Regions from separate parts of the Homo sapiens genome. Here region 1 is linked to region 2. Evidence: fine-mapped expression QTL. A gene starts in region 2. The other region holds a variant in brackets. All regions are shown on one strand. Distances are between the middles of the regions.

What was found. PIP is the estimated chance that this variant, and not a neighbour inherited with it, causes the effect.
Region 1: its variant is the best candidate, but not a certain one, in a credible set for the expression of ZBTB18 in skeletal muscle (GTEx, PIP 0.63).

Annotation. Positions count from the first base shown.
Region 1 is chr1:244,233,207-244,236,124 of GRCh38, reverse strand. All of the region lies in intron 2 of LOC105373262 (a long non-coding RNA gene), which reads left to right. Among named protein-coding and RNA genes, the nearest start is that of SPMIP3, 120 kb to the left of the region's middle. The variant A/G (reference allele first, on the strand shown) is at 1,466.
Region 2 is chr1:244,050,058-244,052,975 of GRCh38, reverse strand. It overlaps ZBTB18 (zinc finger and BTB domain containing 18), which reads right to left and starts at 1,693. Exons shown (of 2, transcript NM_205768.3): 1 at 1,532-1,693. The coding sequence starts at 1,544. RefSeq lists enhancers at 417-918, 2,635-2,684 and a silencer at 2,365-2,454.

The DNA of each region.
Region 1 (2,918 bases), 180 kb before region 2:
TTTCGATGACCTCCTACCTTACTTTCCTTCTCCTTGGTATTTTATGTGATATTAGGAAATCAGAGAGGGCTTTATTCTCTATTAATCAGAGTATATCTTGGAAGATCAAGAAGATGTTCAATGCCCTTCTCACTATTCAATCACAAACTTCCACCAAGATAAAAAGATGAAAGTTACTTCTTACAGAGATGGATTTTTAATAGTGCTTTTTTTAAAAAAGTAAGTGCTCTTTGTAAGGAAAGGAACAGTCAAGTAATGCAGAAGAGAACAAGGAAGAAAGAAAAATGATCAGTCAAGATCTTATCCCGTGAAGAAGCTGCAGTAACATTTTTGCAAACATCTTTCAGGATACCTCTCAATATATACGCAACGTAGATGTGTGGATTCCCTTTCACCTACATGGGATAATATCATACAATTTATATAAACTGATTTCTTTGCTTGATACTATATTATGGGGGCATCTTTCTATGTGTGAATCTTTATTTTTTCTTTTTTTCTCTTTAGTAGCTTTTTTTTTTTTTTAAATAGAGAGAAGGTTTTGCCGTGTTGGCCAGGCTGGTCTCGAACTCCTGACCTCAGGTGACCCACTGGCCTTGGCCTCCCAAAGTGCAGGGATTACAGGCGTGAGTCACCGTGCCCAGCCCATTTTTAATAGCCTTTAATGGAACAGTAGTATGGCATTGTATGTGTGACCTAGTCAGTTTTCTATTGATAGATATTTAGGTTGTTTCCAACTTCTTGCTGTTAGATAAGGTTGGATGAGCAACTCCATGGGTGTGGCTTAGGAGGCTCTTGTCTCAGCTGAATCTTTAGTAATCTCTGGCATTCCCACTCAGGAAATCCCAAAGCACTAGTGGCCAATGGTCCCTGTCTCCATGCCTAGCCAGAAAACACTGTCTTCAAGGCCCCAGTTCTTCATGTCAATCAAATTGGTTCTATTCATGTGTGGGGAGGCAGACTTGTTTGCTTATTTTTGTTTTCCTAAAAAAATTCAGCAATGCTTTTATATCGTACTTGGCATCAATTATTTGCACCCCTCTAGAATCCATCCCTTCATTTTCTGATGATAACAATTCCTGAGGAATTACCCCTCTCCCATTGCATAGAGTCTTGGTGAACCTGGAAGTGGAGGTGGCGGGGCAGTCATTAAAACCCTGTGCGGTTGCCTGCAACAGCCAGCCTCCACTCCATTCCTTCCCTCTCCTGCCTCCTCCCTCACTGCACAGCCTCCAGGTCACAGGTTTGGAAGCTACTGGGGTTGGCAAGAAAGCAACTCATAAGACTGAGCCGTATTCAACAGAGAGACACCAGGAAACCTGGAGAAGTGGGTGTGTGTTATCTCGGGGACCTTAAATATTCCCTTTCCTTTGCTTTGGGGCACAAGAGGAACATAAGCATGAAATAACAAACTTCAATGCTATGTGGTTTTGTTCTTTAAAATGTCGTCTCTTTTTTTCCCATC[A/G]TTGAACTTGTCAGGGAGGCTTCTCTTGGCTAAACCCCACTGCGCTGGGTCAGAGCATGCCTCACTATTATTAACCTGTTCGACAGCTGAGGACGCTGAAGCACCCAGAAGCTACGTGACCCACCCAGGATCAGGTGGCAGCAGCCAAGCGTCCTGGGACTCGCACTCTAATGGCAGGCACTGCGCTTGGCTCGGGCTGAGCTGTCCTGGGGCACGCAGCAGCAGCAGCAGCAGCCAGGAAGCCCAGCTCCTGTTACAGGATGAGGTCTCAAGCTGGGGGCTGCTCTTCTTTCTCAGGTGTCAGTGTTAAAACAGCCACAGAAAGAGCTGTAGAAGAGCCCTTGGTGATTTTGCTTTGGAGGGTGTCTGGTCACAGAGTCTGCAGATAGGCGACGGCACTTTCATTATGTCTGTCACCATCGTGGGGGGATTAGGAGGCCCTAGGGTAGGGGACTGAATAGTTCACTGTGGCCCTCCACTGACAACACTAGGTACTGAAGGGTATCAGTTGTTCAACCTCAATTCTAGGGACAGAGGGGGTGGCGGCAGGAAGGAAATGCACCCTATTGAATGTCTACTCCCAGCCAGGCTTCGTTTGGGGTGCCTTCCTGTAGATTGTTTCATGGACTCCTCATGTCAACGCTGAGAGCTCAATCAACAACTTCAGCTTCTCTCCTCCTCTTCCTCCTCCTCCTTTGGGTTGACGAAATCAGATCATCAGAGCTGCTAAGCAGAAAGTAGCCATTATAATATGATGGAGACAGAATTTTAACTCATGGATGTTTTGGGTCCAAAGTTAAGCTTTTCCCTGTTACTATCCCGGCCCTCAGTAGCACCTCGGGACAGGCAGAGTTTTGCCCCGAATCCCTCTGGAGTGAGAAGCCTTTCTGGAAGGAGCACTGCCGAGTCTCATAGACCCCGGTCTATGTCATAGACCCCTAGACACTGGCTTCTGCTCCCATCTGATGGGTCATCTGAGCAGAACAATGTCAAAAGTTGGTGTTTTCTCTGAAACTCTGAGTCTCCCTCCAGACTGCGGTTGGCTCAGGGCACCATTTTGGCTGCAATCCCGCAGAGTTTCATTTTCACTTTTTTATTGAAAAATCGAGATCTGGGGAATTAGAGCCTTTCCATATTGATTTTCCAGGGGCAAGTGAAAATTACATTCTGTACAGGACCAAGAAAGTGCCACCTTTTGTGGCAACAGGGCTGACGGTGGTGATGACGTGCAGGAAGGGGGACGATGGGGCAAACAGACATAGTTTCCATGTAATTTTTTTTCAAAGTGAAAAGGTAAAAAAACTAATTTGGGTTCGTATAAAATGACTTCTGGAATTACAATTTTATTTATTTATCTGTTTATTTGTTTTTATTTATTTATTTAGTTAGTTTGTTTGTTTGTTTGAGACAGGGTCTCACTCTCGTTACCCAGGCTGGAGTGCAGTGGTGCTAT
Region 2 (2,918 bases):
GAGGGGCTTTACTGAACTCCGAAAATTCTCATCTAAACTTTGATCCGTTGCAAGGCAAAATGAGTTTCATATTGAAATTAATTCAAACTTTTAAAAATAAAGGCATACAGCGCTTAAATAAAACTCAAAAGCTTTACAGGTTCAACGTTTTTTTTTAAGCCTTTTTAGAAAAAGAGAACCTTTTTTTTTTTCCTGGTTCTGCCTTACCTCAGCCAACAGAAAATACTTTGTTTCAATATAATTTGATATATTTCTGTTTTCCCACTAGCTTCTATTCTTGCAAATATTCATCATTGCCCTTGTTTTGTGATGAGGGAAAGTGAAATGGAGGGAGGAGAAAGGCAAAGATGTACAAAGGGTCAGAATTCAACTGCAGTGGGTAAACTCCTGAAAAATAAAGAAGACCCGACTTCCCCTTTCCTGTGACCAGAAGCAAGCCTCCACACCACCCATCTCAGCAAGTGCATTTTGGGAATAGATACACTTAATTTAATATTCAGAAATTACTTCCTTTCTTCTTGTTCTTCTACACTTTGCCCAAGACAGACTAAAACTTTATCCTAACCCCAGACACATTCTGCAAGATGCCACTGCTAGAATAAACTAAGATTTACAATACAATCACTTTAAGTGCCCCACAGCTAACATCAATCCTAATCCTTGAGAAGGCTAAAAATAAAGATTGGAGGGCAGCTCACAAGGTAGCCGTGATCAAATTAGGAGGCTGAGAGGACAGAGAGGGACGAAGAAGGAAGCTTATAAACATCTGATCCAGCTGACTGTGGCCATATGGCAGCTGCTGCCCAGATAAAGAGATTAAGAATAGAGGAGTGCGATTACAGCTGTCTGGCCAATTCAGGCAGCTCAAATCTACAAGTTCTAAATTAGTCGCTAACACAAAAACTCCTGCAAATAATTATTGTTATGCTGAAATAAAAGATCTCTTAAATATATATTTGAAAGAGAAATGAGGAAACCAGTCAAACTATTCTCCTGGGGACAAAAGTTTGGTTTTTTTTTCTTCTTCTTAAAAACCTGCAGTTTCAACAGCACTACAGCTGTATGTTTCAGTAGTGCTGCTCAATGTTTTGAAGAATAAAGTTTCACAGAGGAATTAATTATACAACAATCTAGCTGCTTAACTAGAATAATCTTCTCATATAAGTTTGAATGCTGGATTCCAGTTTACTATTTCCCCACCACCACCACCCCAATCAAATCTAAATAGCAGTGAACAACAAAAAAGCATTTTAATCCAACGTGATTTCCAAAAGCAGCATTTTAAAGCCTTTCTTAACATTTCAAAACTTGAAATATTTGTGTATTAAAGTTATTTACTCGCTCAAGTAAAAGGGATAAAAAATTAAAACTAAACAAGCTCAAGACTTTCAACTCCAGTAAGATGTTCATTTAATACTCAATTTCATATATTATTCCTAAACTGGGTTAGAAAAGTAATGTGATTTTTAAAATTAAATAAACAAAACACCAAAACAGAAATATGCTCAATCTAATCTCTTGCTACTCCTACCTTTAGGACACATAAACCTGATTAAGTCCTTTCCTCTGAGTCCTGCTGGCTCCAGGTCTGTTACATCGGTGGAAAAAAAGCAGACTAAGAGAGACAGATGCAAAGTGGAGATGATGTTAGAGAGGAATGAGATACCTTCTCCACCACAGATCCGCACACACTAACTCCCTGTCTGTGTGTTAGAATAAAAGGCTGAGGGATGGCAGGCTGTCAGCTGCTCTGACATCATGTTCAGATGGAAATGCTACCTCCAGCTGTGCTCCTTTTAATGCCATATGCTACTCCTCTACACTCCTGCCACCAGCTTTTTCTTAGGAGAACTTTTCTCTTCTGTTAGTATAAACAAAATACTTCAAAGTCTTCCTTTTTTTCCAAACTTTCTAACAGAAGAAATTGAAAAACTCAGCATATGGAGTTCTACTGTATTTATGGAATAGCAACACTTCTGTCTTAAGTTGGTGGACTGGCTTACATACTGACAGCACACTCAAGCCACGGTGCTATTCAGGAAATCCAGATTCACTTTTATTCAACTCCAACGTTTAGTTTCTAAAGCAGTTTAGGGATATTTTTAAACCAACCCATTTGACATCTCCAGTCCCATTTCAACATTATTACCGCACTTTTTTATTTTTTTCTGCTGAGATAATGGTATACATGTCTCAAATGTTGGCAGACTTGTTCAGAACTATTACTTCAGACTGGTTCACCTTATTATTTCACTCTTATGTAATTACTTATCTACAACTACCTTCTCAGAAAAATTTCTTACACTGCCACAGTCAATGCAAATTTCAATTCTCGGTACCAACAAGCTGAAACTGCACTTTCTGAAATCCTGGAAAGTACTTCAGTTCAACGAGACCAATTAATAAACTGATACAACCTGCTCCAGTCACTTAAAATGAATGCTGCACCTGCATATCTGATCTTTCTGCTCAGAAAAAGCAGAACCTTGCCTTCCCCTTGATCTGTGTCCCTTAACAATCTTTTTTTTCTTTGGGGGGGGGTCACTCTAATGTTTATGATCACAAGAAAATCTTTGTGTGGGGGGAAGCCAGGTCTAGTAAGTTTGAGAACTTTTCAGCCAGTTTGTGGGTCTTTTCTAATAGCTGATGAAACTGTAACGCGACCCGGGCTGGGCTGACCGGTACCGGGCAGGGTGCTGCGACATCTCTGAATGTCAAATACATCTCCTCAGACTCTTGGGAGGGCGAGGGGTAGAAAAGGAACTGGGGCCTGAGGCGCCAGCGTCCCAGCCCTGGTGATAACCACTTCGTTCCCATTAGAAAGCCGTGGCGGAGAGTTAAAGAGTAACAAAACCCGACGACTCCGTCCTGTCCTTCTCGCTTTCCCAAAGTCACAAACCTAACTTTCTCCAACTTCG